Linked DNA regions of Homo sapiens. The protein of the gene in region 2 purifies or fractionates together with the protein of the main gene of each other region. This does not show direct contact. Each region holds a gene or a part of one and is shown on either strand. Other genes may lie near its edges. The genes, in order: KLK7, VNN2, MIA3, PIGS, FAR2, APOD and FKBP14.

Region 1 (3,519 bases), on a different chromosome or scaffold from region 2:
CTCTGTACCCCCTCTCCCTGGGGCTCTGTCCCCCTCTCTCCCTGGCTCTCTGTCTCCCTCTCTCTGGGTCTCTGTCCCCCTCTCTCTGGATCTCTGTTCCCCTCTCTCTGTGTCTCTGTCCCCCATTCTCTCTAGGTCTCTGTTCCCCCTCCTCTCTCTCTGGGTCTCTGTCCCTCTCTCTCTGGTCTCTGTCCCCCTCTCTCTCTGGATCTCTGTCCCCCTCTCCCTGGGCCTCTGTACCCCCTCTCCCTGGGGCTCTGTCCCCCTCTCTCTGGGTCTCTGTCTGCCTTTCTCTCTGGATCTCTGTTCCCCTCTGTGTCTCTGTCCCCTTCTCTCTCCGGGTCTCTGTTCCCCCTCCTCTCTTTCTGGGTCTCTGTCCCTCTCTCTCTGGGTCTCTGTCCCCCTCTCTCTCTGGTCTCTGTTCCCCCTCCTCTCTCTCTGGTCTCTGTCCCTCTCTCTCTGGGTCTCTGTCACCCTCTCTCTCTGGGTCTCTGTCACCCTCTCTCTCTGGTCTCTGTTCCCCCTCCTCTCTCTGTGGGTCTCTGTCCCTCTCTCTCTGGGTCTCTGTTCCCCTCTCTCTCTGGTCTCTGTTCCCCCTCCTCTCTCTCTGGATCTCTGTCCCCCTCTCCCTGGGGCTCTGTCCCCCTCTCTCCCTGGCTCTCTGTCTTCCTCTCTCTGGGGCTCTGTCCCCCTCTCTCTCTGGTCTCTGTTCCCCTCTCTCTGGGTCTCTGTCCCTCTCTCTCTGGGTCTCTGTCCCTCTCTCTCTGGATCTCTGTCCCCCTCTCTCTCTGGGTCTCTGTTCCCCTCTCTCTGGGTCTCTGTCCCCTCTCCTCTCTCTGTGTCTCTCTCCCCCCTCCTCTCTCTGTGTCTCTGTCCCCCCTCCTATCTCTGTGTCTCTCTCCCCCCTCCTCTCTCTGGGTCTCTGTCCCCCCCTCTCTGGGTCTCTGTCTCCCTCTCTCTGGGGCTCTGTCCCCCTCTCTCTCTGGATCTCTGTTCCCCTCTCTCTGGGTCTCTGTCTCCCCTCCTCTCTCTGTGTCTCTGTCCCCCCTCCTCTCTCTGGGTCTCTGTCCCCACCCCGTCCCCCAGGTCTTTGCACACCCTCTCTGTCACAGTGTCTCTTCTGAATCTGTGAATGTCACTCCTCGCAGTGAGTACACCGTGCACCTGGGCAGTGATACGCTGGGCGACAGGAGAGCTCAGAGGATCAAGGCCTCGAAGTCATTCCGCCACCCCGGCTACTCCACACAGACCCATGTTAATGACCTCATGCTCGTGAAGCTCAATAGCCAGGCCAGGCTGTCATCCATGGTGAAGAAAGTCAGGCTGCCCTCCCGCTGCGAACCCCCTGGAACCACCTGTACTGTCTCCGGCTGGGGCACTACCACGAGCCCAGATGGTAGGTGGCCTCAGTGACCCAGGAGTGCAGGCCCCAGCCCTCCTCCCTCAGACCCAGGAGTCCAGGCCCCCAGCCCCTCCTCCCTCAGACCCAGGAGTCCAGGCCTCAGCCCCTCCTCCCTCAGACCCAGGAGTCCAGGCCCCCAGCCCCTCCTCCCTCAGACCCGGGAGTCCAGACCCCAGCCCCTCCTCCCTCAGACCCAGCAGTCCTGGGCCCCAGACCCTCCTCCCTCGGAACCAGGAGCCTGAACAACAGCCCTTCTGGTCCTCGCCCCCATCCTCTCTGACTGACAGCTCTCCCTGCTCCTCCCTGCAGTGACCTTTCCCTCTGACCTCATGTGCGTGGATGTCAAGCTCATCTCCCCCCAGGACTGCACGAAGGTTTACAAGGACTTACTGGAAAATTCCATGCTGTGCGCTGGCATCCCCGACTCCAAGAAAAACGCCTGCAATGTGAGACCCTCCCCCCCAATTCCTCCCCAGTCCTGGGTACCCTGTCTGCATGCCCCAGGGACAGAGCTTGACCCGAGTGACTGGGTACCAAGCCCGGCCTTGCCCTCCCCCCAGGCCTGGCCTCCTCAGCTTTTTCCACCTCATTCTCTGCCTAGGTCAGGGGTGGGAGTTTACTTAGGGGCCAATGTGGCCCTGGGGATGAGACAGAGAGTTTAATAGGGGTGAGAAAGTGGGGGTGGGACCAGGGAAGGAGACTGAGGTGCTGGCCTCAGGCCCAAACCTTAAGGGGGCACCAAAAACCTCAGTGATTGAGATAAATCATAATGCAATATTTAAAAATAAAAATAAAAACTCATGCAGAAGTCCATGATGGACAAAATGTCACATTTTAAATAAAGAGCAGGTGGATCTTACTGAATTTTCCCTTGCCGTAAGTACTAGCGTGGCTCAGCACAGCGCTGTACTGGCACTGTCTTCATTTAAAATGTGGATACCATGCCCATCATGCAGTTTTATGTATTACATTTGATTTCGTTAAGTACTGCATTGAAGTATTGTGTATTGCAGTTACTGAGATTTTGTGCCTGAAGCTGATGACTCACTCACCTGACCCTGGCCCTGGTCCCGGGGAAAACACTCTTTCTCTCCACCTCCTCTCTGTTCCCTCTTTCTGGCCTTTTGTCATCCCCTCTGTTTCTGAACAGTCTTCCCACATCTCTCTTTGTGACATAATTTCATTTCATTCTTTTCCTCTTTGTTTTTTCTCTGTGTTGAGCTAGCTTGCTCTCCCTCCCTTGTTCTCTCTCCATGCCCTCCTCTCTGCTCTCTGTCTTCTCCCTCTTTCTCTTGCTTCTCTCTCTCTCCTCCCCTCCCTCTCTCCTCTCCCTGCCCCCCTGCTCTCTCTTTTTTCCTCTCTCTCTGTCTCCTCTCTGGCCCTCTCCTCTTTCTCTCTCTCCCCCACTTCTCTGTCTCTCTTCATCTCTCTCCCTCATCTCTCCTTGCCCCCTCCTTTTTACTGTCTCTCTCTTTCTCTTTCTTCTATCTCTCTCCTCTCCCTGCCGCTCCCCCATCTCTGTCTTTCTTTCTCTCTCTTTATTCTCCTCCTCTCTTCCAGTCTCTCTCTCCTCTCCCCACCCCCACCCCATCTCTCTCCCCACACCTTCCCCCCCTTTCTCTTTGTCTCTCTCTTCTCCCTCTTTCTTCTCCACCCCCATCTCTCTCTCTCTTCTCTTCCCACACCCTCCCCATCTCCCTCATCTCTTTGTCTGTCTCTCTTCTCCCTCCTTCTTTTCCACCCCCATCTCTCTGTCTCTCTCTCTCCCCATACCCTTTCCCTCTTCCTCATCTCTCTTTGTCTCTCTCTCCTTTCCCTCTTTCTTCTCCACCTCCAACTCTCTCTGTCTCTCCACACCCATCCTCCTTGCTCACATCTGCACCTTCAGCTGTCAGGGGATGTGGGATGGTGAGTGTTAGGGATAGAGGAGATGGGAGAGAGATGACTGTCCTAGAGAATAGGGTGTTCCCCTTCTCCCCTGGTGAGGGCCAGTTTCATGAATGTGCAAGCTCTGCACGGACACAGAGCCCCACACTCAGAAGGGTCTCAAACTTAGTCTAATGCATTCCTGCTGTTGTCTTGAAATTCTCAATAATTTTTGAACAAAGGGCCCTGCA
Region 2 (4,544 bases):
AGAAAAAGAAAGCTATACAAAACCCGGGACATCTGATTAGAAGAGAAACTAAAATAAAAGTAGTATCTCTATTTACTGTTAGTTTTGCAAGTGAAAATAAGACTGTTTATAATTTAGATATGTTGGCAAACCCACTTAAGGAAGTCTTCTTGATGTTCTCCACAGTAGGCTGGTTTATTAGTCAAATCGAAACTCATCATGGTTAGGTTAATAATTTTTTAAATATGCTTAAAGCAAGCAATAAGATTATACTTAATTCCCATTGTAAATATTTTATCCCAGTGTATGTACGTGCATAAATGCACGTGTGTGTGTGTGTGTTGTGTGTGTGTGTGTTGCCATCAATGCATGGAGTCAAGCCAAGGAAAAGCACCTGGTTTTCTGGAACAAATATAAAAAGTTAACCTGGAATTTACCTTTCACTTGAATGCCCTTTCATTTGAACTGAAATTACCTGCCAGTACTCTCTTCTCCTTCGGCCATGTAATCCTGTAAAAGCTCCTAGAACGTATACTTCATTCTCTTCTTTTTGTAACATTCTGTAGCTTAAATGACAGCAAAGCTCCTTTTGACAGACTGTAAGGTTTCCTGCATTTTCAAAAAGTTCTGTGAAGTTGAACCCATCCCTGGAAATAAATCCCCTGAAAGTGTTTTTCTGTACTGGAAATGGTTTGATGGTGGTGGCGTAGGCATTCCAATTAACAGCTGTTGGGTAGGCAAGCGAGGATAGGGGATGTGAATCCACCTCTGAAAGGAGAAGTTTTCCCAACTCTGTCTTCATGTCATAATGATACACTTTGGGACCATTTGGTGCATAAATACCACTTCCTGTGAATGAAAGACAAGTCTTCTAAAAACAACACCACACACAAAAAAACCAAAACTGCCAATTTCCCCATCAGAATTGGGCATGTGATCACGCCACCATATTAGTCACGATGAGAGAGGATACATGCTTCTAATTGCACTGAACACCTAACTACTTCTATTCTCTAATGGAAGAGATTAAAATAAACATTCCTTGGTCTCATTTCAATTAAACCTTAAATATAATAGCATTATTTATTAGCATTATGGAAAATTAAACCAACTACAAAAATCTTTGTAGTCAGGAGTTCCTGAAAGGTGGGGAAAGGGAATAAAAATTCTCCCCTATTCCTCATTGTGGTGGTTTTCAAATATATCCAAAAATTCCTTAAAATTCTTCTTTCTGGTGGGAGGATCTAATTCCTTTCCCCTTGAAGAGGGGCTGGACTTAGTGACTCACTTCCAATGAATAGAACATGGCAGAAGTGATGGTGGGTAACTAGTCATAAATAGCAATGTGGCTTCTTTCCTTTTCTCTCTTGTCCCCTCTCATTAATTGCTCTAGAGGAAGACAGCAGCCATGTCACGAGGATATGCCATGCAGCCATAGGAGGAGACAAAGGGCAAGATATAGAGGCTTCCATGGCCACTGAGGAAAGTAGTAGCTGGGTAGCATTTGGCAAATTACTTGCACTCTCTGTATGTCAATTTTCTCATCTGCAAAATTGGGATGACACTATCTATCTCATATAATTATTGTAATAATTAAATGAATAATACACATAAAGGTCTTAGTATAACCATAGCTTATAATCAAGTGCTAGCTTTTTTTTTCTATTGTGAAACTATGACAAACACAGTAAGAATTTCCAATAAGCAAAAAATTAATACAAGTCATAACTGAGGCATTCATTTCTCTGCACTTAAAAATATAAGATGAAACCTAACCTGGTCATGAATTACCTGTCATATTTAGGCTGACATGATGTGTGTTGGCCACAAGAAGATTAACTCCCATTCCCATTGCCCAAGCTGAATGGAATTCAATAGCTGTCAAAAGGGGCAAAACGTTCATCCAAGCTGTGGGAAACAGTATGGTGTCCACATGGAAATCTTTCACCAGGGTAACACCAGGATCATAGAAGAATATATCAAAGCACGTGAAAATGCCAAACCTTCCAAATGCGGTGTTGAAAGTCACCAACTCCGGCTTTTCAGGGACATTAAACTGAGGCTCAGAGTACAGGTGGTACTACAACAAATGGATAGGAGAAAACCAGTAAAACCTTATTTGTTGAAGAAATGACTCATAAAAACCCTCTAAGTTGGTAACAGATTTGGCTATGGTCAACTGCAGGGAATCTCCTAGGAAGCGGATAAATCTGGCAATTGGAAGTAAATTTCTAAGGAAAATGTGGAGGAATATGTAACATACGTCCATAGCATCTCTCATCTCCTCTCTCTCCCTTCTCTCTCTTTCCCTCTCTCTCAGTTAAGAGCCAAATACCCCCCCATAAACCCCAAAGTCCGTAAGCTTTTTTTAAATTTAATTTAATTTTATTTTTCTGAGACGGAGCCTCGCTCTATCACCCAGGCTGGAGTGCAGTGGCATGATTTCGGCTCACTGCAATCTCCACCTCCTGAGTTCAAGCGAGTAGCTGGGATTACAGGCACGTGCCACTATGCCCGGCTAATTTTTTCGTATTTTTAGTAGAGTCGGGGTTTCACCGTGTCAGCCAGGATGATCTCAATCTCCTGACCTCATGATCCACCCACCTGGGCCTCCCAAAGTGCTGGGATTACAGGAATGAACCACAGCACCTGGCCCTATAAGCTTCTTAAAAGTTAAAAAACATGCATTATTCTTCTTTGAATCCTTGGTGCCTAGAAACGTAATATTAATAGATGCATAATAAATACCTGTAAGTCAGGTGAGAGATGTCATCTCTCTCTTTAGTGTCCCATCCAAAGTAATCTCAGTGACTCTTGCCCACCTTTCAAAATTACCATAGAAATGTATTTAATTTCCCGATTCCTTCTAGGTAAACTAAAAAAAAACTTAGTCTAATATAATAAATGGAATCAACAGTTAATAAAATGGTCTGCAGTGTAGAAAAAATATCTAAAAAATAGAAAAGAAATTGGGCTTTACTACTATTTTAAGAATTGACAGGCCAGGCAAGGTGGCTCATGCCTGTAATCCAAGCACTTTGGGAGGCCAAGGCAGGCAGATAACTTGAGGCCAGGAGCTCAAGACCAGCCTGGCCAACATGGAGAAACCCCATCTCTACTAAAAAATCCAAAAATTAGCCGGGTGTGGTGGTATGCACCTGTAATCCCAGCTACTCAGGAGGCTGAGGCAGGAGAATGGGTTGAACCTGGGAGTCAGAGGTTGCAGTGAGCTGAGATCGTGCCATTGCACTCCAGCCGGGATGACAGAGCCAGACTCTGCCTAAAAAAAAAAAAAAAAAAAAAAAAAAAGGAATTGATCGACAAAGGTATTCTCATTAGGTTCACATATGTCAGAGGTCATGGGTTACAAACGGTCCCTGAGGTACCCTCAGGGAAGAGTGAGAGCCTTTCAACTTAGACAGGGTGACTGCAGGTTCCTTGCTAGTTTGTCCACATTCAGTGCACTGTGCCATCCTGCATATTTACAGAATGGCAGAATAGCTTCAAATGATTACTGCAAATAAACTGCATTGAAAGATAATACAAATAATGCAAACAATCTCCCAAGCAAGAAAATGGAAGCACTGACCTTTCTATTTTTACTATGAGACACATTTTAAGAAGAAAGTGAAATGCAGTGATATATATGAAAAGAAGCTGTCAAAATCCACAAAATTATGAAGAAAGCATTTTGAAATTGTTGCACTTTATAAATACACACACAAAAATACATATATTGAGGACTTATGTTAACGATTTTTTCCAATAGGGGTCCATGATCGAAATCATTTGAAAACCATTGGTTTAACATCCCTCCTCTTAATTAATATTTATATTTTAACTGAGACTGCCAGGAGATAATTTCTCCACTCCAAAGATTCTGAGGCTACAGTTTAAGATGCTTACAAAATATCTGGGTGTGGAGAAGGGACATTCATACTGCCTGTACATCACACATATCCATTTAAAAGGCCAGGCTTCTTTCTCTACCTAGTTTAGTATAAAATTATGACTTAAAGGTTATTTGATTCCTTTTTTCAATTCAGAATTTAAAGTAAACATTTTATGGTTTGATCTTAAATCTATAAGATGGTAATTAAATTAGCTGGTGTAGAAAATAAGGTATTTTGTGGTTTGATAGCAAATTAACTTATGCAAAGCTGATTCATACAATTTTGAAACATCTTTCTACCATTTCAATATTAAATAGTATTTAGATTATGGCTGTGCTCAGTGGCTCATGCCTCTAATCTCAGCATTTTGGGAGGCCAAGGTGGGAGGACTGCTTGAGGTGAAGAGTTCAAAGACAGCCTGGGCAATGTAGTGAGACTCTGTTTCCAAAAAAATATTTAAAAATTAGCATGGTGGCACATGCCTACAGTCTCAGCTACTTGGGAGGCTGAGGCAGGAGGATCACTAGAGCCCAGGAGTTTGAGGTTAACAGTGAGCCATGATGGCTCCACTGCACTCCAGCCTGGGCAACAGTGAGACCCTGTCTCTAAAAAAATATAAAATTATTGAAACAGTGCCCAGATTATAGTCACCTTAGTATCTTTTTTTATGTT
Region 3 (4,544 bases), on a different chromosome or scaffold from region 2:
ACGTGAATTCGAGATTATCTCAATCATTAACGTGGATAAGACTTTGCTCTGGTGACACTTGGCTATTGACAGACTAATGTTTTTCTTTTTCTTACAGGAGACGGATTTTGTTTGTTTTGATGGAGGAAGAGATGATTTTCATAATTATAATGTAGAAGAACTTTTAGGGTTTTTGGAACTGTACAATTCTGCAGCTACAGATTCTGAGAAAGCTGTAGAAAAAACTTTACAGGATATGGAAAAAAACCCTGAATTATCTAAGGAAAGGGAACCTGAACCTGAACCAGTAGAAGCCAACTCAGAGGAAAGTGATAGTGTATTCTCAGAAAACACTGAGGATCTTCAGGAACAGTTTACAACTCAGAAGCACCACTCCCATGCAAACAGCCAAGCAAATCATGCTCAGGGAGAGCAGGCTTCATTTGAATCTTTTGAAGAAATGCTGCAAGATAAACTAAAAGTGCCAGAAAGTGAAAACAACAAAACCAGCAATAGTTCTCAGGTCTCAAATGAACAGGATAAGATTGATGCCTATAAACTTTTGAAAAAAGAAATGACTCTAGACTTGAAAACCAAATTTGGCTCAACAGCTGATGCACTTGTATCTGATGATGAGACAACCAGACTCGTTACTTCATTAGAAGATGATTTTGATGAGGAATTGGATACTGAGTATTATGCAGTTGGAAAGGAAGATGAGGAGAACCAAGAAGACTTTGATGAGTTGCCATTACTTACCTTTACAGATGGGGAAGATATGAAAACTCCAGCAAAGTCTGGCGTTGAGAAATATCCAACAGATAAAGAGCAGAATTCAAATGAAGAGGACAAGGTTCAGCTAACTGTGCCCCCTGGCATCAAAAATGATGATAAAAATATACTAACAACCTGGGGGGACACTATCTTCTCTATTGTCACAGGAGGTGAAGAAACAAGAGATACGATGGATTTAGAGAGCTCTAGTTCAGAGGAAGAAAAAGAAGATGATGATGATGCATTAGTCCCAGATAGCAAACAGGGGAAACCACAGTCAGCAACAGATTATAGTGACCCTGACAATGTAGATGATGGTCTTTTTATTGTAGACATTCCTAAAACAAATAATGACAAAGAAGTAAACGCAGAACATCACATTAAAGGAAAAGGGAGGGGAGTTCAGGAATCCAAGAGGGGCCTGGTACAAGATAAGACAGAATTAGAGGATGAAAATCAAGAAGGCATGACTGTGCACAGTTCTGTTCACAGCAATAACCTCAACTCTATGCCAGCTGCTGAAAAGGGTAAAGACACATTAAAATCAGCTTATGATGATACAGAAAATGACCTAAAAGGAGCAGCTATTCATATCTCAAAAGGAATGCTCCACGAAGAAAAGCCTGGAGAGCAGATTTTGGAAGGTGGCTCAGAGAGTGAATCTGCACAGAAAGCTGCAGGGAATCAAATGAATGACAGAAAGATTCAACAGGAATCCCTGGGTAGTGCACCACTCATGGGAGATGACCACCCTAACGCATCCAGAGACAGTGTGGAGGGAGACGCTTTGGTAAATGGGGCCAAACTGCACACGCTTTCAGTGGAGCATCAACGTGAGGAATTGAAAGAGGAATTAGTTCTTAAAACTCAAAACCAACCTAGATTCTCCTCTCCAGATGAGATTGATTTGCCCAGAGAACTGGAAGACGAGGTTCCCATTCTGGGAAGAAATCTTCCCTGGCAACAAGAAAGAGATGTGGCTGCCACAGCCAGTAAGCAAATGAGTGAGAAGATAAGGCTCTCTGAGGGAGAAGCCAAAGAGGACTCCTTGGATGAAGAGTTTTTTCATCACAAGGCAATGCAGGGCACAGAGGTAGGACAGACAGACCAAACTGACAGCACAGGAGGACCAGCTTTCCTTTCTAAAGTAGAAGAGGATGATTATCCCTCTGAAGAACTACTAGAGGATGAAAACGCTATAAATGCAAAACGGTCTAAAGAAAAAAACCCTGGGAATCAGGGCAGGCAGTTTGATGTTAATCTGCAAGTCCCTGACAGAGCAGTTTTAGGGACCATTCATCCAGATCCAGAAATTGAAGAAAGCAAGCAAGAAACTAGTATGATTTTGGATAGCGAAAAAACAAGTGAGACTGCTGCCAAAGGGGTCAACACAGGAGGCAGGGAACCAAATACAATGGTGGAAAAAGAACGCCCTCTGGCAGATAAGAAAGCACAGAGACCATTTGAACGAAGTGACTTTTCTGACAGCATAAAAATTCAGACTCCAGAATTAGGTGAAGTGTTTCAGAATAAAGATTCTGATTATCTGAAGAACGACAACCCTGAGGAACATCTGAAGACCTCAGGGCTTGCAGGGGAGCCTGAGGGAGAACTCTCAAAAGAGGACCATGAGAACACAGAGAAGTACATGGGCACAGAAAGCCAGGGGTCTGCTGCTGCAGAACCTGAAGATGACTCGTTCCACTGGACTCCACATACAAGTGTAGAGCCAGGGCATAGTGACAAGAGGGAGGACTTACTTATCATAAGCAGCTTCTTTAAAGAACAACAGTCTTTGCAGCGGTTCCAGAAGTACTTTAATGTCCATGAGCTGGAAGCCTTGCTACAAGAAATGTCATCAAAACTGAAGTCAGCGCAGCAGGAGAGCCTGCCCTATAATATGGAAAAAGTCCTAGATAAGGTCTTCCGTGCTTCTGAGTCACAAATTCTGAGCATAGCAGAAAAAATGCTTGATACTCGTGTGGCTGAAAATAGAGATCTGGGAATGAACGAAAATAACATATTTGAAGAGGCTGCAGTGCTTGATGACATTCAAGACCTCATCTATTTTGTCAGGTACAAGCACTCCACAGCAGAGGAGACAGCCACACTGGTGATGGCACCACCTCTAGAGGAAGGCTTGGGTGGAGCAATGGAAGGTGAGATGCCTATGGCCTTGTAGAACAGGGCTGGAGAAGCAGGTGGGTGGGTCGCTGAGGTGCCTCCTATCTTGTGAAGCTCTGTTCAGTTTCCAATGTGCCTAAAGGAGAGGGACAACACAGGGAGGTCCACATGTTCCTTCCTGCCATCTTTCTTTTAGGCTGGAGCATGGAGAAGAATTTCTTGCCGTTTCCCTTAGAATAGTTGAGACTGGTTAGCATTTTCAAAAGGAAACTTTGTAAAAAGCTAAAGAGAAAGATATAAACCAGAAAGTAATATACAAAATACAAATGTCATGTAAAATTATGAAAGGGTTTTATTGAACACAATTTTTCAGTCGTCAGATAACTGCTCTGTAACCATGGATTGACTGGTATAACTTTTAGATCAATGCCTTGGCTAAATTCCTACGTTCTCCCCAATTTTATCTTTTGTGGATGGCTTGTTCTTCCTGTTTCTTGGGAGCACTTACTCCAGTTAAACCCTCCTGGGCCGTAAGGTTCTTGCATGCAGATTAATCAAGATTGGGACAGGGATGCCTTCGAATGCAGTGCTTGATGCGTGGAAGCCATTCAGTTGAATTAACCCCGAGCCAATATCCTGACATAAGCATTCTGATTCCTAGTTCCTTGTTCTATTCTCTGCATCCAGGCTTTTCTCTTTCTTTTCTTTTCTTTTCTTTCCCTTTGCCCACCTGCCCTTCCTTCCTTCCTTCCTCTTTCTTTTTTTCTTTTCTTTTTTTTTTTCTTAAGACAGGCTCTCACCCTGTCACCCAGGCTGGAGTACAGTGGCATGATCATAACTCATTGCAGCCTCCAACTCCTAGGCCCAAGCGAACCTCCCATCTCAGCCTCCTAAGTGGCTAGGACTACAGGCATGCATCACTGTGCCCAAATAATTTTTATTTATTGTAGAGACAGGGTCTTGGTATGTTGCCCAGGTTGATCTTGAACTCTTGGCCTCAAGTGACCCTCCTACTTTGGCCTCCCAAAGTACTGGGATTACAGGTGTGAGCTACCGCACCTGGTATATCCAGGCTTTTCAGACAGATGTATCTGAATTGAGAGTACCAAGGGGACAGGAAGCCACAGGAAAACGTATTACTCCAGAGTGCTAATTTTTCCTAAGAAATGGGGGAGGAGAACTTTTTTGCATTTAATTAAAACATATATTTTGGATAAGAAGGCAATATTCAGATGAATTTTCAGGGTAAAATATGAGGCTACAAGGAAATTCACCTTTGCTGTGGATCACATTGGACTGTCCCCTAAGCCTCTTAGGAGAGGAGATGGCTTCACTTTGTTTGACTCTTAGAGGTACTTTGAAAGTATTCGAAAGACATCTCAGCAAGCTGCCTTGGCGTGGAATGTCCCTGTCTGTACTAGTTCTGTGAGAAAGGCATGCTAGGGTATGCAAGAGTTCATGTTACTTCTCTGCAGAATAGATGTTTCACATTTCTGCTCTTGAGTGGAATTCTCATTTGCACATTTATTTGTGTGGGTGTAGGCTGATTTGCCAAGGAAAGATGTTACTGAAGTCCCTACCATAAATGTATTTATTTATGAAATACTCCTCTGTAGATTTTATTATGTAGATTAGTCATCCTTTAAATGGAATAAAAGAAACTGAAA
Region 4 (4,544 bases), on a different chromosome or scaffold from region 2:
CCAGTAAGTCCTAGGCATTGGTGGAAAGGGTGCTGGGCCTTACTGTGCCTTCCATCTACCAAGGAAGATGCCTGGAGTTCATCCAGGATCTATGGAAGTCTTTCTACAGGGATATGGTTTATTTTCCTAGGGTCAGCTTGAAACCTCGCACTCTCATCTGCACTCCTGCTTGGGGGCTGGTACTGCCGTCTAGAGGAAGGCTGGGACACTAAAGATGGCAAGCCCACACATACCATGGACCTCACAGGCTCTCTGGTCTCACCACACTCTGGCCCTCTCTGGCTACTCCAGTCCCAAGCTGCAGAATCCATCCCCTGCCTGCTTACCTCAGATGCCACGTCGTCCTTAATGACAATGTTGCTGATCTTGCCCAGAAGCTGCGCCAGGGAGGTAAGGGTGGTGGTGGCTGTGGCCAGGTTCTCCACTGACCGAGCCCAGAGCAGCCGGTCTAGCTCCCAGGTCATTAGCCCTTCACTCGTAGGCCCTGAAAGCAGGCATTTTGGAGGCAGCTGGGGCTGAGCAATCCCAAAGAGCAACCTGTAGGAACATCGGAGTAAGATCAAGGTGGCTGAGACCACAAGGCGGGAGATCATGGCTAAGATTTCTCAAATATCTGTCCTGAGCCAGTGATTTTCAATCTTACCCAGAACCATAGGGGTTAAAGGGAAGTACCTCAGGGTCTTGGGGGCATAAGGGGCAACACCAAACAAGTTGGCCCCAAACGCTGCTTCAACAGGTGTTTCTGCTTTTACCTGTTTCTACATTAGATTTCCAAGATCTTGTTTTTTAAAAAAAGGTTCCATGGCTAAAATACTTCTGATAACACCAACTCAGTTTAATCCTTTCACCTTTTCTACCCTCTCTTTGAACAAATGGGGCCAATGGGACTTAGCATTAAGGGATGATCCAGGACTGCCTTTGCCAAGGCACATGTGCTGTGCTTCTCTAAGCCTGCATCCGTGAGAGACACTGCTAGTCAATCAGAAGAATACTCTTTCCTAATGAGCCCAGATACAGCCTTAGAATCCTCAACACAGAGCCTCAGGCAGCCACTCTCAATCCATCAGGCAGCATAAGAATTAACAGCTATTTTCTTAAGCAGCCCTAATCACACTCCATGGACCTGACATTCATGAGTCTATTTTTCTTAAAACTGGTTTTGCTGGCTGGGCACAGTGGCTCACGCCTGTAATCCCAGCACTTTGGGAGGCCTAAGCGGGTGGATCACGAGGTCAGGAGTTCAAGACCAGCCTGGCCAAGATGGTGAAACCCCGTTTCTACTAAAATTACAAAAAATTAGCCAGTTGTGGTGGCGGGCACCTGTAGTCCCAGCTACTCGGGAGGCTGAGGCAGAGAATTGCTTGAACCCGGGAGGTGGAGGTTGCAGTGAGCCAAAATGGCACCACTGCACTCCGGCCTGGGCAACAGAGCAAGACTCCGTCTCAAAAAAAAAAATAAATGATTTTGTCACCTACTAGTCCTTCTTAGAAGGATGATGGGATCCTTAGAAACTTTTCTTGGTTTCCCTGGGGCTCTAGGCACAGCCAAGATATCCCTGCCAGGTAAGACTTGATTCCACTTTGCAACTCCCCTCTACAGCCAAGGAGACTATGTCCCCAAGTGGATCATCCAGGACCTCACCGCAACTGTGCCAGGAACACCTCCATCACTCGCACCATGTCCACCTCGACTCTCACTGGCAGCACTGAGGCATTATAGGTTTTGGAGTCAACATTATATACCTGAAAGGGGGAATGAGATTGCCACAACATCATACCAGGCCCTTGCACAGCTCTGCCCTAGGCACTCTGGAGAGAAAAGGAAAACATATTCTGTGCTCTTTAGAAGCTATAAACCTCATGGTATAGCTAATATTTTTTGAGTACCTACTACGGAGAGCATTAAATACATTATCCCAATTACCCCCTTGAAAGTCCTGTAGAACATATTTTTTTCTTATCCCATTTTAGAATTCTCCCCCATGAGAAACTTCCAGTCTAACAAGGGAGACAAGGCTCCCAACCTTGCAAGACTCCCACAAATAAGGCGAAGATCTAAGATGGACACAGAATGATCCTAGGTAAGGGCAAAGGGTCACAGTATAGAAAACACTGGCGGAAACAAAAGTGGGGCCGGCAGAAGAGGGGCATGAGCACATAGCACCCTCACCTTCCTGGTGCCTGCCCCTCCCACAGGCTGGGCCATGGAGGACACCAGAAGGAAAACAGAAGGAACACAGTTTCAGGGACACCTGCCTGTCCCAGAAGCATGGGCTCTGGGGTCTGCGTAGTGTGACTATTACCATAATGCCACCCCAGCGGGGACTATGGAAGGCATTGGTGGCCACTGGAGCGCCATCCTTGTCCTGAATGTACAGCGGTGAGTGTGCAAGCTCAGGCACGTAGAGTAGAAAGTTGAGCACAGGGTACAAGGAGGCAGCACTGGATCCTGTGGTATAAAGGGAAAGCAGAATATCAAAACATGCTGGACCTGGACCTTAGTCCCAGGTCGGCCTCTAACTTGCTGGTCACTCACTCTGGGACTGATTCCCCAACTAACAATCATTAGGATATCCTCCTGTCCAGGGTGTCTCTAGTAAAGGGCTTCAGAATGTTCTCCCGAGATGTGCCATACCGATGGAAACATAGTCCTTAGCTCCAAAACACCCCCGAATTCTCCCTCCTCAAAGGCCCCTTGACTGTCTACGACAGCTTTCTTGGCCACTCCCACAATGTACCCATATTACTACAGATAGTTTTATGCAAACCAGAAATCTGACCTTATGTCAGTTCCCTGCTTAATATCCCTCAATCACTAGCCACCCATATCAGGTTAAAGTTCAAACTCCTTAACATGGTCCTTTATGACCTGGCTCCTGCCTGCCTAACCGGCTTCATCTTTGGTCACTCACTCACATTTCAGCCACACTAAACTACTCTGAGCTTCCTGAATGCCTAAGCTCTCTCACTTGTCTGCATCTAAGCTCACAGTTCCCTTTGCCTGAAATGCCCTTCTTTTCTCTACTCAGCACTGTCATAAGGTAGTCCCTCAGTCAATGTTTGCTGAATGAATAAATGAACGGAGGAATTTTCTAAGGCCTCACATGCCACCCCCTCACAATCCTTGGGCCACACTAGCCTGCCTCTGGTATCTGAGATTCCACAATTAGATATACTCACTTTGGTTTGCCTGTGTTACAGTTCTTAGTCACACCTCCTCTTCCTAGTTTCCACCCGAAAAATGAAAAACTCTAATACTAGCTTCAAGGTTATTCAACCTCAATCAGCAGAACTGTCAATTCAAATTCTGCCCTCAAGTACTTTTGCTGTTGTCTTTCCTATGTGTGTGACAGCCTCTCTCCTAGATGGCTTTTAGGGAGATAGACCCAGCCTAGTCATTCATTTGTAAAAAGTGCTAGGAATCACGTTTAATAAATGCTTTTGGATATGATAGGTGTGAAGATGGAGATATCAACAGAGCATCATGAAAAAGGAACCTAGGGCTCAGGCATAGTGGCTCACGCCTATAATCCCAGCATTTTAGGGGGCTGGGGTGGGAAGATCACTTGAGGGGAGTTCAAGACCAGCATGGGCAACATAATGAGATCCTGTCTCTAAAAAAAATTTTGAAAATTAGCCAAGTGTAGTGGCACATACCTATAGTTCTAGCTACTCGAGAGGCTGAGGTGGGAAGACCACTTGAGTCCAGGAGTTGGAGGCTGCAGTGAGCTATGACTGTGCCACTGCACTTTAGACTGGGCAACAGAGCAAGGCCTTGTCTCAAAAAAAGAAAAAAAGGAGCCTCAATCTCCACAGTCTCCTCGGACCAACCCAACCTGGGAACCATCACTGTATATAATCCACCTCCAACTCCTGTCCCCTACCCAGCTGAGCCGTCAGGGTCCCTCCCTAGCCTGGCAGAAAAGAAAGACCCTCATCCTTAGGTGCTCACCCAGCCGGGACTCCACTGGGTTGATGACATGGGGGAGGCTGTGCATGTCCAAATAGTAGCTGGAGGAAGCTGAGTCAAAGCGGGGATTCACCCCCAACATTGCATAGTAAAGAATCTGTAGAGCAAACAGGGAGTGGTTACTTTGTTTAGATTTATATTCTACTTTCTCCCAAAAAAGATTTGAGGTGCCTTAAAAAAGACACAATCAGGACAAGGCAACATATAAGAGACAAAATCAGGGCTGAGAGAAAATAATTGCAGAAGAAAATAGCAAAGCCAAGGGTAAACTGAATAAACTAAATACGTGCTTTAAAAATCACGTATTTTACCAGGTTTCCTAACAGTCTACACAAAGAGAGAAACAAAGAACAGCATAATTCAGTGTCTACAAGATCAAATCAAGCCAGTTATTCAGAAGCAATTACTCCCACTAGGAAGACCTGATAAAAATTTCTCCCACGTGTTTTCCCTACAAGGAGACAGCGTGATACAGAAAGCTACATTCTTCACATCTTTTTTTTTTGAGATGGAGTCTCACTCTGTTGCCAGGCTGGAGTGCAGTGGCACAATCTTGGCTCACTGCAAACTCCACC
Region 5 (4,544 bases), on a different chromosome or scaffold from region 2:
TCTTCCCCACTTTATACCAGAAGACTAAAGCTACAGTTTAAAAGTTCATTTGAAGTTTTGTTTTGCTCAGTGGCAAAGATCAAATGGGACCATCCCTCTCCCTGTTGACCACTCTAATTGAGTCCTGAGTGGAAAAAGCTTAAATATAAAGGGTTTGGCAACTTTTAGAAGAAGGAGACTCTTGAAAGAAGGTTACCAGGAAAATTGAGGATTAAAAAGATTTAGAAATAATAGCTATCAAATTCGAATTTGAGAATATTAATTTTGACTTAAAAGCATAATACACGAGTCCCCAATGCAAATATGCTTAATCCCTCACTCTATACATACTTATTTACACTTCTTGTTCCTTTTTAAGAAGTGAATGTAGTTAAGAAAAATGTTAAATGTAAACCTACTTTTCTGATTCCCCCACCCCTCAACCAGGACTCCAGGGTATAACATAGAAAGAAAGAGAGACATTTTCAGTGGGGAATTACTTCTCTTACTGCATTTTTGAGGATATTGAGACCATTCTCCTTTTACTCATCTTGATTTTAAATTTTTCTTTTGGGTACCCAGAATGGTTCCAAGGTTAGTACTGCTTGAGCTCATTTCAGCTTCTGCCATGCATCTTTCCATATTTACTGAGTTTAAATGAATCATCTCAGAGAGAAAAGAAAAACTAAATATAGAAAAGTGGGAGTACTTTCACGTTTAATACGCAAGGGCATAAAATAGAATGTTAGGAAACAATTTGGATTTTTTTCCCTAAAATATAGGTGACTATGGGCTAGTTTACAACTTTCCTTCTCTCACTGAAATAAAAATACATAGTTAAGGAATAGGGACGAATACATAACAGGTGACATTTGACAGTTTGGGCATATTCCTTGTTACTTTCTAATCTTGAGAATCACAGTTTGCTGTTTTAGAGGTATCTGAGAGGTTCCAGATAAAAAGCGATGGCTAAATGCTCTTAAACTTTGAGCGTGCTGGATGCTCTAAAGTAGGAGAGGAATTTATAACAGAAGCTTACAATGAAGAACCAGACATTCCGAGCCATCTGAGATCTTGCAATGAGAAGGCGCCAGGCGATAAGGAAGAGGGCAGTATTAAAGAGGTAGTGAATATTTCGGAGCCTAGGGAACAGACAGACATAACCAAAGTTAAAACTACCAGATACCCAACCACATTATCTGAAGATAAATATGTGTTTTCCTGGATATGACTGGCAAGTATTTATGAAGTGCTCAGAGTATTTGATATAACTTGGCCAATTGGTTTCTGCGTCTTTCATTTCCACAGCATTCTTGCTGAATAGTCAGATTTCTACCATATTTCCCTAATTTCTCTTATACCTCTCTCCACTTGAAACTATTTACAAGCATGACTAGCATAATCTTGTAAATATACTTTGGTCATGTTACCACATCATAAATCTTCACTGGTTCTTGTTCATTAGAAGGTAAATTCTAAAGTTCTTGGCTTGCTATTCAAGGTTCCTCCTTCCTGTTTTGCAAGCTACTTTTTTATCCTTATCATCTCTGCACTACAGATCCTCTGCTTCTACCAGGATTATACCAGAGTGCTAGAATTCCTTGTCCCTCAGGGATTACGACTGAAAGAAATTTAAGAAAGTTGAAAAAATTGAGGAGTGACTTTTTTCTAGGTTAAATAGCATAATCAGGTCTCCTGCCTGTTGGGTATTTATATCCCATTATGACAGAGTGTGGTAGAAGAAACAAATTTGGGTTCAAATCTGGCTCTTAGACTTACTATGCAATTACCATGGGCAAGTTATTTGCTGTGTTTAAATCTAGATATCTGCCTCATAAAAATGGGGTAACAAAAGTAATACTTGCCTCATAGAGGTGTGGTGAAGTCTAAATGAAACTGTGTTACAGGGTAGAGTATGGAGTGCAGGACCTGTAATGTAGTAAATGCTCAAGAAATGTTCATTCTCCTCTGCACAAATGTTATGTCTGGTATAAAGTCGATGCACAGTAGGTGCTCAATAAATATTAACTGACTGATTATACTTACCTTTTTAAGCGTTGCTTTGCTTTTGGGATCCCAGCCATATCCTCTTTCAATAAGTATTTTTTAACTCCCAAAACATAATTTTCAATGTATTCCAACCAGTTCAACTGGCGCACGTCAAAGTTGAATACCTGAGAGGCAAGAGAGATTATAGATTGCCAGAATTGCAGTGCTGGACAGTCACTTTGTCCACTTGAGGTTTCTTCTACATAGACGAGTGACCTTCAATTTGGGAGACATAGGTTGGACCCTCTCCAAAGGAGAGATTATTTGAGTCATTATTTCAAAGGTACTGATAATATGGATTACTATTTACATAGGAATATTTAAACATGGATCAAACACAAACACTTCACATTTCTTGTGAGGGAGATTTAAAGGAAATAGTATTACATAGTCTGGTGAAAACTTATGGTTGGCTTGGTATATATTTCAGCTAACCGAGGAGTAATTATTTTTAAAAGTGATAGAATAATATGTTAGTGACCAAAACATAAATGATGCAACTTTCCCTTTCCTCTTAAATTTTGGTGTTATCCCTTTGTTCTACCATCCTTTCCTACAGCATTACCATTTCATTATGCAGATTAAACTTTGGGAAGCAAAGCCTTAAGGAATAAGTTACCAGAATTTATATTTAAGAAGAGAGTGATTGGTAGTGAAAGAAAAAAGGAGTGATCACAACATGGGGGAGGAGTAGGGAAGAAGGAGAAGGAAGAGATTGATCTGTTTAGGGAGAGAAGTTGTGCCACATAGAAGACAGATACAGAGAGTGACAATAAAGAAAAATGATTAAAAAATTTTTAAGGTATCTTTGAGGAAGAGAAAAGAAAAACACTTGCATAACCAAAAATGTATTCTTTTTTTGGTTTGTTATGGAAAAGCTGGAGTAAAGATTTGAATTGCATTCCATAGATTTTATTTTTTGTGTACTTTGAAAATGATGCTGAGCTGACACAGGATCAGGAGGTGGCCCAGATTTATATGGATTACAAATGGAGATAGGATGAGTTAGGAAGAGAAACCTGATAGGTCATTCTTGAGCCATCCAGGGATCTTTTCAAAATCTCCATATAAAGGGCCTAATTGGAGAAAGAAAGGGAGGGAAATGATCTTCAAATATATTAGAAAAAATAGTTTTGATTGAATATAAAGAACTTAGGGCACTAAAACTTGTTAGTAGAAAGAGTGTCAAGAAGATTCTGGTATCATCTCTGGAAATATTTCAAGTATTAGGTATTCTTGGAGAGTTTGGTATGACCCTGTTATCAAATAAAAGATTGCATCAGTGAGTGGATTTGGTTCAATAGAGTTTTATTTCATGTATTTGGAGAGAATGGCCTGGAAAATGGACTTGTGCTAGCATTTAAAAAGTCTAATATTTATAAATCTTAGCAAGTGGAGGGTGTGTTTAAGGTGCTTTTGTCCTTCCAATTGGGCACTCTTCTCTCTCCTTGGACATACAGCACTCTCAGATCACTTTTTGTCTATTCATCCCTGGACATTAAAAAAAAAAAAAAGCCTATCTTTAGTGGAGAGTTTCACGTACAGTGAAAGAAAGTTGCTCGTTACTCTTAACTTACTTAACTTCTGGTGAGGCCTCACTAGGAAGGACTTTAATAGCTAAAATGGCTTAATTCAAATAAATGATATTCCTAGAACAACAAGAATGATGTTCCTTTGAATGGCACAAAGTAGACATTCAATAAATACTTGCTATTAATGAATTATAGAATTTAGGTCAAATTAATTTAAATATTAATTTTGAACACCAAAAGTGTTTCTTTTTTGTTACACAACAATTTATTCTATTTAGTCTGTATATAAGCTTTACATGAATATGACCAAAGTAAACTCTTAGTTTCCTTTTTTCAGACAATCAGTCTTTGATCGAGGCTTAGATGGTACCAAATAAAAGGCATATATTATCAAAACCAAAAAGCCAATCACCACTAAAGGTCAAGTTTGTTAACTTTAAAATGGCTACACGATTTTCTGAGAATCTCTTGGGTTTAATTCATAAATTGCATCTTTCCTCCAGAGTCTATATTTAGCTCTTTTTCTCTTCAGGAAATATTACACTTCTAAAGAATGTAATTGAATTTGACATCTTAAAGATTTAGTAGTTCTCTAAGGCTACTCGATTCTTTCTCCTTTATATGCAAATTAAATGTTATATTTTAATCACAGAAAACCATCTTAGAACTCGGAGGAAAGTAACTAAATATTATTATCCCTATTTAACATTCTAGGCATTCAGTAAACATTTAATAATGAGCCCTTTGCTGATTCATTGTGCATATTGCTTTTGCTTTATCCTCTCAACTTGCATGGAGAAACATGACAAGAAATAACTTTTTAAAAATCATAAATGGGCCAGGCGTGGTGGCTCATGCCTGTAATCTCAACACTTTGGGAGGTCGAGGCGGGCAGATCACCTGAGGTCAGGAGTTCAAGACCCGCCTGACCAATATCGTGATACCCCGTCTGTACTAAAAATACAAAAATTAGCCAGGCGTCGT
Region 6 (4,544 bases), on a different chromosome or scaffold from region 2:
CAAATTCCAATTGGATTATTTGCAGAAATTGACACGCTGATCCTAAAATTCATATAAAAATGTAAGGGACACGGAATAACCAGAAGAACAAAGTTGGAGGACACATGTGTTCTTATTTCAAAGCTTACCTCAAGGCTTTGATTACTACAAAGCTATAGTAATCAACACTGTGTGGTACTGGCATAAGTATAGACATATAGATCAATAGAACTGAGAGTGCAAAAATAAACTCTCACATATACAGTCAATTGATTTCCTATAACGATTTCCTACAAGAATATTATTTGGCAATAAAAGGGGATATAGTATTGATACATGCTACAACGTGGATGAACCTTGAAAACGTTCAGTAAACCAGTCACAAAAGACCACATATAGTATGATTTCATTTTTATCAAATATGCAGAATAGGCAAATTCGGAGACAGAAAGTAGATTAGTGGTTGCCTGGGGCTGGAAGGGTTGGAGGGGAGATGGAGACTCCGTGAATGGGTATGAGGTTCCTTTTCGGAACAGTGAAATGTTCTAAATCGATGGTGGTGGTGATGGTTGCGTAACTCTGTGATGATACTAACAACAATGGAAAGTGAAAAGCTACTTTAAACAAGTGAATTACGTGCTATACAAATTATATCTCAATAAAGCTGCTATTTTTTAAATCCTGCTTTAATTCTCAAAGGACTTCTATAAATACAGATCAGTTATCATTTCCAAAGTGCTTTGGGATTTGTATCCAAAAGCGAAAGTATAACTCAGATTCCTTGGATGTTTTCTTTAAAGCCTCTCTGTGGTCTATCAGAGTTACCTGAATAAAGGGATCAGCCTGTAAGTGGAGCAAGTCAGTGTAGACGTTAGTGTACTCTATGGCCTCTTCCTACCACACCTGTATCTCCTGATCCCATGGATGGTGCTCCTTCTCCCACCCAGCGTCCCCTCAGAGGTCCCAACACTCATTCACCTTGAGGTGCGAGTGTATGATAACAACTTCGATGTTACTGTTGCCATTCTTAAAAGAGATCCAAACCTTCTCCTAAGGAGAGGAAGTCTTAAGGGTGAGATTCCAGGCTTGAGTAGCAACAGTGGGAGCCTGTGAGTCCTGTCCTCCAATAGCTGCCTCTTTCTGCCGCCCTCTTCCTTCCCCTCCCGCTAAACCCCAGGAAGAAAGACCATCTATGGAGGAGCTCGTTGTATTGATGACATTTTGGTGCAGATACCAAGAAAGCCCCCTGGAGAATTTTGGGCTTTCCTGAGCCCTGTTTGAGTGACCTTTGGGTGCCCTGCACTGCTGAGAAGCCTGGTTTTGAATCCTACTTGCATTTACCAGCTGCGTGAGCTGGGGAGGGAGATTCCGATGCTGCATCTGTAGAACAAGGATAATAGCTCTGTAGCAGCTACTATGGTTCCCTGGTCCTGTTCCCCTCAGCCCACCTCTGAGTTCACCGCAGCCACGGTAGGCAATTCCCAGACACTGCCAGCCTCCCACCTGAGACCCTGTGTCTCTCCTCTGCCAGGGGGCTCAGCTAGAGCCACGGATGCTCCCATGACCTGCTGGCAGCAGCTGTGGGACAATCGGAGGGGCATGCTCCACGTGTCCTCAGAGGGTGCCCAGTGTGACTGACCCTGACGGCCCAGGGCGACAGCTCAGGAACGCACCCTTTATTGCTTCTGTGCTGTCTCCGACTCACCTTCCCACCTGCTCTCGTGCGTCCCGGGATCATCCCAAACCTCTCTGCCTGCAGTCTTTATCTCAGCAGATGTCTGCTTTGGGGAAACCCCAAATAAGATAAATACTTGTCCCAAGGTGTGCAGTGGAAATTAAAGCAGCATAATTACATTGAACCTTGTAGAACGCTTATTCACAGCGGAGGCAGCAAAACAAACGGGAGGTTCGCCTTTTACCTTATTCACGTCAAAATTCTCCTGCACCGGAGGATTGGGGCACTTCCCAAGATGAAATGCTTGTCCCTCTGCCGCACCGAAGAGGCCAGCCAGTGCGGAAAGCAGCAGCAGCAGCATCACCATCTTGGGGCTGGGTGGCTGGAGAAGGGACCTGGAGCTGCGGGAACGCAAAGCAGCTGGGGTTGTCATTCTGAGCCTTCTAAGGCCACACAATCATGAAGTAAGAGTGCTGTGCCCATGGTCCCCTCTGTGGGCGGTCCCTCCTCTTCTCTCCCCAGCCCATGTGAACCCTCATCCTGCAGGGGAACACCTGCCTGTCCTTGTTGCTGTGAGGCCTTCCTCAGAGCCTCTGCACCTCCACGAGGGCGCTCTCTGCCTGGTATTCTGGTTTGTTGGATTGATTTTCACCCCTGTCCCACCTAATTATGCATCTCCCAGGATGGGCACTGTGTCTAGTTCTCCTCAGAATCACCCACGGACCTCAAAGTGTCGGCTCAGTAGATACTTGTCAAATGAACAGAAACAGCGTGGAGAGGGCTATGTAAAGTGGGGGATTAAAGCCTCCAAGTGAACCACGAAAGACACGAAACCAAACCAAATGTTGCCCAACACTTAGTGTCCTCTGAGATTCTTCAGGGAGATGCCTCTCTGACACCATCCCTCCCCCTGCCCTCGTCTTGCTGGCTGTTCTACCAGCCCAAGAGTGCGCTTGGAAACCTTAACAGGGAGCGGCCTGCTGGGGGCTCCAGGGTCACCCCAGCCAGGTTCAAATTGTGACTCTGCCCCATACTAAGTATAACTGTGTCCAATTTATGCCTTAGCTTCTTTGTCTAGTAAATGGGAATAATTATCATTCCTAGCTCATGAATTTTTGTGAGAATTAAATGAGATAATATACAGAGAGTACTTAGAGGAGTGTCTGATACAGAGTAAATGCTCAATAAATGCTAGTTATTGTTATTATCAAAAGCAGAAAGATGATGGTATTTCCCAGGTTTCTTCTTTCTTTTCTTTTCTTCTTTCTTTCTTCTTTTTTTTTTTTTGACATTCTGTTGAGGGTTTTTGTTTTGTTTTGTTTTGTTTTGAGATGGAGTCTCACTCTGTCACCCAGGCTGGAGTGCAGTGGCACAATCTCGGCTCACTGCAACCTCTGTCTCCCGGGTTCAAGTGATTCTCCTGCCTCAGACTCCTGAGTAGCTGGGATTACAGGTGTCCACCACAACTCCCGGCTAATTTTGGTATTTTTAGTAGAGACAGGGTTTCACCATGTTGGCCATGCTGGTCTCAAACTCCTGACCTCAGGGGATCCACCCGCCTTGGCCTCCCAAAGTGCTGGGATTACAGGCCTGAGCCACCGCACCCGGCCTGTTGAGGGTATTTTTCATAGATGAAGTTCATTAAATCAGAGAAGGACTGTCAGCTGATGTGTAACTGTGCAACAAGCATTTCAACCCCAAGAGTCCTTTGGCAGCAGAAGCTGGCTTTGAAGCGGGGCAGCAAGGCAGGGAGACAGAGGCTGCAGGACTGTGTGCAGGTTCTGGGCATTGGAAGCTCCCCTGTTTCCTTCACTGACTCGCTGTCAATTTGCTCCTTTCCTTGTGACTCCTTGCCTGTAGCTTGCACACGAGCTATTTCCAGCTCTCTGCATTTCTCCCTGTAATGATGATGACTGATGCAATGCAAGCAAAATGTTCTCAGATCTGAGCATTTCGAAGGATGTGTCATTACAGGAATAATTATAACTGCTTTATTGTGAGTCTCTAAACCTCTAAATACCCTTTAATAATCAATAGCTTTTTTTCCCCTGGAGGTTTTGTTGCCTGGTTTTCCAAAGAACAGTTATGTAAGGAGTGGCAGCTTGCCAGCTGGGGTTGCTGCAGGGGGAGATGGTTGCTGAGGCCCCTTTGAGCAAGTCTGCCACAGGGCCACTTTCCCTGGTCTCTGAGGTTCCGTTTCTCATCGGCTCCACCACTGTATAAACAAAACCTGTCTTTTAACCTTTTGGGGGATGATGAATTTATAGAAATGCAGCCTAAACCCACACAAATTTGCATCCATTTTAAAGAGATCTTGAATTCTACTTAGTAGGCCCAAGCTGAAAGCCTGGCCCAGAGGATCAAACCTCAAAGACTGGCCACACACTATGCACATTCCACAAGGTCCCCACACTGGATAGGACCTTAGAGGTCATCTTTCTAGCTCTACTTCCAAGGTGTACAGATGGGGAAGCTGGGGCCTGGAAGGGGCAGAGAGCTGGGACTCGAGCTCCATCTCCCCCTCTCCTGTCTGCAGCACCCCGAATCTGCTTCTTCTGTGCACCGCCATAGGGCCTTTCAATAACCCCCCACCTCTGTGACCTGATGAGTCTCACCACCACATGACACTGCAACAAAAGTCAGTTCTACATCTTACTCTGACAAAATGCTCTCTTGTGAGCTGAAACAGATTCTTTACCTCAGTAGGAGGATTTCAGAACAACCCCTTTGACTGACCCTCTTCCAAAGATGCCTCTTGGTTACATTAGTTTTATTCCTGTGGTTAAAACTCCTTGTGATGCCAGGTGCGGTGGCTCAAGCCTGTAATCCCATGGGAGGCCGAGGCAGGTGGAGCACCTGAGGTTGGGAGTTCAAGACCAGCCTGACCAAC
Region 7 (4,544 bases), on a different chromosome or scaffold from region 2:
AATCTTTAAAAGTGAAAAGAGCTTTGTTAAAATCCCAGGAACCTGAAACAAACAAACAAACAAACAAACACACCCATCTGTGGAGTATGGACAATTGTTTTTCTCAAACTTGTTTCCTTATAACTATATTTAACATACAGGTCTGTGTAAACATGTTAAATATTTCTTAGTCATCCTCCCCCCATCCCACATATTTCCATGAAAGAACATTCATAAATTCCAAAGAGAAGACTTATAAAGTGTGCTGAAGCTTACCATTTCAGATCTAGACAGAGATGTGACATGCGCTAGGTTGTTGATAAAACTGGTATCTTTCCAAAAGAGGCATGCAAGCATGTACTAAAAGACTACAAAATTAGTGTTAAATACAGATTAGAAAAATTAGTTTCATGGCATTCAGTTTGAAGGAAATGACTCAAATTTAGATCTCTACTTATTGTGAAGTAAACTTGAGTTAAATATAGTATGAGAAAGAGTAATGGACTAATACAACGTACAGTAGTCCCCACTGGGATATGTCCCAAGAATCCCATTAGATGCCTGAAACCATGGATAGTACCAAACCCCATACATACAATGCTTTTTCCTATACATGCATATCTGTGATAAAGTTTAATTTATAAAATAGTCATAGTAACAGATTAAAAATAATAAAATAGAACAATTACAACAACATATCATAATAAAAGTTATATGAATGCAATCTGTCTCTCATTCTCAAAATACCTTAATATTTTCAGACTGCAGTTGACCACAGGTAACTAAAACGGTAGAAAGTGAAACCACAGGTAAAGGGGAACTACTGTATGTAAATATTAAAGGTGAGACAATAAAGATAAAATGAAAACATTCTCAGCATCAGAAAAAATTTTCTAGATACTTGGTTTTCTTCTCTAAAGAGGATTATGACTAAAAGAAGAATTGAATTTGGTTAGTTAATCTTATCCTATGAACAAGATTTGTATAGATTTGTATATTTTGGAATATATAATGCTTGCCATATGGCATCTATTTTCCTTCTCAGGAAATGGGCTGTGAATCCTGACTCCTCACTTTTGTCAGTGGTTAACCTTAGACTTCAGGATGCTATGAAGTCTATATTTATACTATATCAGAGTAGTTGTCTGTCTGGTTCTGATGACTACTTAAACTTTTTTTTCTTCATTATGTAAGTAATACATGCTCATTGTAGAGCACATACTTGGATGATAAAACCAGAAATAAATATGATTCCCAGTATCACAGTCCATTTTTAACATTCTTATTTATTTCCTTATGATTAACTTTCTATGTATATGTACCTTTTCCTATATTTACTATCATATATACTATAGGTTTATTTTCTACTTTTATATATAATACTGTATCTCATGCATTTCAGATATAATTTTTAAACTCTTTGGAAATGCCATTTTAAATAACTGGGCCATATTTTATTTAGCTAAATTCTTACCAGTATACCACTTACGACAGTTCCAATTTTTTGCTTAGAAACAATGCAATTATGGACATCCCTGTTCACAAATTTTTTTCCTGATATCTAATTATTCCCTTAGGTTTGAAGGAATTATAGAATAAATGCATATAGACATCTTCAGACCTCTTTTTTTTTTTTTGAGATGGAGTTTGGCTCTGTCCCCCAGGCTGGAGTATAGTGGCACGTTCTTGGCTCATTGCAACCTCTGCCTCACATGTTCAAGCAATTCTCCTGCCTCAGCCTCCTAAGTAACTGGGATTATAGGTGCACTCCACTACGTTCAGCTAATTTTGTATTTTTAGTAGAGACAGGGTTTCACCATGTTGGCCACGTCGGTCTCAAACTCCTGACCTCAAGTGATCCACCCTCCTTGGCCTCCCAAAGTGCTGGGATTACAGGTGTGAGCCACCATGCCTGGCCCAGACCTCTTGATATATATCACAAAGCAGCTCTTTGGAAAGTTGCAGGGGTTCTCACTTGAACAGCAGGATATGTGTCTGCCCTGAAAAACTAGTACAAAAGCTGTCCGGACCAGCTAGCCAGCTTGCTTCTGCTTTGTGACACAGGGAGAATTAAATTCATTTCATGTCACTCTATGATTTTTTTTAAATACATTGTTAAAAACTTTATAAATAAATTTAAAAACGGGAATGAAAAGAACTCCCAGTTTGCTGTGGGAGACTTAATATTCATGAAGTACAACCCATATATAACCCACATCTAAAATGCATTCAATACTTTAATAATCTATATTTCACATGTTCAACTCATCCAAACACTTACGTTAATGGATCTTTCTCTCTGCATTGTTAAAGTAAATTGGTGAGTTTCAGTTTGGGAAGATGAGAACATTCTGAAGATGGATAGTGGTGATGGTTCCACAATAACATGAATGTATTTAATGCCACTGAACTGTGTACTTAAAAATGGTTCAAATGAAAAATTTTATGTATATTTTATCACAATTAAAACAACCCACCATATTTGTGAACAGTATTAATAGACCTCAATGTTCTTTTTTTATTGTTAGCATAGTTGCCCATTTAGACATTACGGCCTTAAACTGGCCATTTCAATTGATACTCAAGACATAATACAGTTGCTAAAGGAATACATACCCCCTATTAACTTCCAGGGGAAAAAAAAAAGTTATAGTGACTCTAACTTCTGTCTCCTAATCCAGAGAACAACTCTAGTGCTATAGTAAGAAAAATACAGAAATACTATTACCTTTTCCTTCTTTTCCATAGCCCAGAGCAGGAGGAATGATGAGCTTTCTCTTCTCTCCTACACACATTCCTTTCAAGCCCTGGTCCCAACCTTTGAGAGCCTCCAGGATGCCCAGGGTAAACCAAATGGGCTGACCATTGTTATGTTTGTGACTATGATAGAAATAAAACACATTAGAACTCCTTATTAACTCTAAAAAATTTTCTTTAGTGCATTTTCCCACCAGTAAGTGGTTAAGTTTATTAGTTTAAAAATTTATAAATACAGCAATTCTGTATTTGCACACATACACACACACCTCCAAGTCAAGTTTATAGGAATTCAATTCACTGCCCATCTTTCTTGATGCAAATTTCACATACTTGACTGGGCTTAAGAAAGACAGAGGAAATAATAAAAACAACAACCATTTGAACATTTGTTGTATACCAGGAATTATTCTAAATTTTATTTTATTTTTTGCCTCTTAACCCTTACAATAAGTCTATAATATAAGTACCATTACTACCCCATTGCACAGATGAGGAAACACAGGTTAAGTTCCAGTCTTTAAACCTAACTCCAAAGTTCAAGGTCTTAATCACAAAGTTATGTTGTCCCAGGAAGGCCACTAGGTTGCAGAACAAGGAGAAAATAATGGAAAAATGGCTGAGTTTGGGAAGGAGATTGAAAGGCTAAGGAGAATTTACTGCCAACATATGTGGGTCCATATGCACACAGATATGAAGAGTGAGAAGCACAGTGTCTTATATCCTGCCTACAAACTTGCCTTAGCTATGGCCTGCTGATGGCTCTGACGGGTAGAAAAGGCTGCTTTTCATCCCTAAATCCCCACTCAGACCCTAGCCCAGTTTCCTCCTCAGGGGTCTACAGTGGGGCTATATAGGAAAGTCTGGAAGAGTAGCCCCTCAAGGACTGGTGTGTTAGTCCATTTTCATACTGCTATGAAGAAATATTCAAGACTGGGTAACTTATAAAGAAAAGGAGGTTTAATGGACTCGCGGTTCCACATGGCTGGGGAGGTCTCACAATCATGGCGGAAGGCAAAGGAGGAGCAAAGGCACGTCTTACATGGTAGCAGGCAAGAATGAGTGTGCAGAGGAGCTGCCTTTTATAAAACCATCAGATCTCGTGAGACTTATTTACTATCACAAGGAGAACAGCATGGGAAAAACCTGCCCTCATGATTCGATTACCTCCCACCAGGTCCCTTCCACAACATGTGGGGATTATGGTAGCTACAATTTAAGATGAGAATTGGGTGGGGCCATAGCGGAACCCTATCAACTGGGGACGAGGGAAATAGAATGTCCTGGCTCATGAGTTGAAGAGAGTCTAGCCTAGGAAAACCAACCTGCCGAACTACATACAGGGAGGCTTAAGGGCTGAGTAATGCCTGATCCCTACCTAGCTCCCTTTCAGTGCAATAAGGAAAATATTCTATTCAAGGATATCTTGTAGGTGAGAAAAAGAAGTCACTGTACTACGCTTCATGAGTACCATGGTTACTAAATCTGGGTAATGCCATTTTTTCCTGTAATTTTGCCCAATGATCAAAGTAACAAAATGCCAACTGTAGAAAATTTGGGAAGGCTAGAAATGAAAAAAGAAGCAGGAAACATTCTACTACTCATCACTGACTACAATTTTAGCACAGTTCTTCTTAGGGCTAAGCAATTTATCCCATAGGCTATGGTTCTAGAGATGGCAAACGTGCTTACAAACTGATCATTTGATGGTATTTCTTTTTCTTCAGAGCGGAGTCTCGCTCTGTTGCCCAGGCTGGAGTGCAGCGGCGCAATCTTGGCTCACTGCAGCCTCCGCCTCCTGGGTTCAA

What was found.
Region 1: the proteins of VNN2 (region 2) and KLK7 purify together in Homo sapiens (affinity purification with mass spectrometry; 2 studies listed by BioGRID and IntAct, with this or other methods). This does not show direct contact.
Region 3: the proteins of VNN2 (region 2) and MIA3 purify together in Homo sapiens (affinity purification with mass spectrometry; 2 studies listed by BioGRID and IntAct, with this or other methods). This does not show direct contact.
Region 4: the proteins of VNN2 (region 2) and PIGS purify together in Homo sapiens (affinity purification with mass spectrometry; 2 studies listed by BioGRID and IntAct, with this or other methods). This does not show direct contact.
Region 5: the proteins of VNN2 (region 2) and FAR2 purify together in Homo sapiens (affinity purification with mass spectrometry; 2 studies listed by BioGRID and IntAct, with this or other methods). This does not show direct contact.
Region 6: the proteins of VNN2 (region 2) and APOD purify together in Homo sapiens (affinity purification with mass spectrometry; 2 studies listed by BioGRID and IntAct, with this or other methods). This does not show direct contact.
Region 7: the proteins of VNN2 (region 2) and FKBP14 purify together in Homo sapiens (affinity purification with mass spectrometry; 2 studies listed by BioGRID and IntAct, with this or other methods). This does not show direct contact.

The regions. Positions count from the first base shown.
Region 1 is NC_000019.10:50,978,117-50,981,635, reverse strand, and holds part of KLK7 (kallikrein-7 isoform 1 preproprotein), read left to right. Parts: intron 1-1,148; coding exon 1,149-1,396; intron 1,397-1,711; coding exon 1,712-1,848; intron 1,849-3,519. UniProt on the Homo sapiens protein: May catalyze the degradation of intercellular cohesive structures in the cornified layer of the skin in the continuous shedding of cells from the skin surface. Specific for amino acid residues with aromatic side chains in the P1 position.
Region 2 is NC_000006.12:132,750,691-132,755,234, forward strand, and holds part of VNN2 (pantetheine hydrolase VNN2 isoform 1 precursor), read right to left. Parts: intron 2,802-4,544; exon of another isoform or gene 2,728-2,801; intron 2,060-2,727; coding exon 1,771-2,059; intron 829-1,770; coding exon 455-828; intron 1-454. UniProt on the Homo sapiens protein: Amidohydrolase that hydrolyzes specifically one of the carboamide linkages in D-pantetheine thus recycling pantothenic acid (vitamin B5) and releasing cysteamine. Involved in the thymus homing of bone marrow cells.
Region 3 is NC_000001.11:222,627,478-222,632,021, forward strand, and holds part of MIA3 (transport and Golgi organization protein 1 homolog isoform 1 precursor), read left to right. Parts: intron 1-97; coding exon 98-2,912; intron 2,913-4,544.
Region 4 is NC_000017.11:28,554,525-28,559,068, forward strand, and holds part of PIGS (GPI-anchor transamidase component PIGS), read right to left. Parts: intron 4,067-4,544; coding exon 3,952-4,066; intron 2,449-3,951; coding exon 2,303-2,448; intron 1,743-2,302; coding exon 1,642-1,742; intron 538-1,641; coding exon 327-537; intron 1-326. UniProt on the Homo sapiens protein: Component of the glycosylphosphatidylinositol-anchor (GPI-anchor) transamidase (GPI-T) complex that catalyzes the formation of the linkage between a proprotein and a GPI-anchor and participates in GPI anchored protein biosynthesis.
Region 5 is NC_000012.12:29,330,209-29,334,752, reverse strand, and holds part of FAR2 (fatty acyl-CoA reductase 2), read right to left. Parts: intron 2,154-4,544; coding exon 2,026-2,153; intron 1,909-2,025; coding exon of another isoform or gene 1,881-1,908; exon of another isoform or gene 1,122-1,880; coding exon 959-1,121; 3' UTR 1-958. UniProt on the Homo sapiens protein: Catalyzes the reduction of saturated but not unsaturated C16 or C18 fatty acyl-CoA to fatty alcohols (FAls). A lower activity can be observed with shorter fatty acyl-CoA substrates.
Region 6 is NC_000003.12:195,577,441-195,581,984, forward strand, and holds part of APOD (apolipoprotein D precursor), read right to left. Parts: intron 2,056-4,544; 5' UTR 2,022-2,055; coding exon 1,899-2,021; intron 1-1,898. UniProt on the Homo sapiens protein: APOD occurs in the macromolecular complex with lecithin-cholesterol acyltransferase. It is probably involved in the transport and binding of bilin. Appears to be able to transport a variety of ligands in a number of different contexts.
Region 7 is NC_000007.14:30,019,958-30,024,501, forward strand, and holds part of FKBP14 (peptidyl-prolyl cis-trans isomerase FKBP14 precursor), read right to left. Parts: intron 2,860-4,544; coding exon 2,708-2,859; intron 348-2,707; exon of another isoform or gene 256-347; intron 1-255. UniProt on the Homo sapiens protein: PPIase which accelerates the folding of proteins during protein synthesis. Has a preference for substrates containing 4-hydroxylproline modifications, including type III collagen. May also target type VI and type X collagens.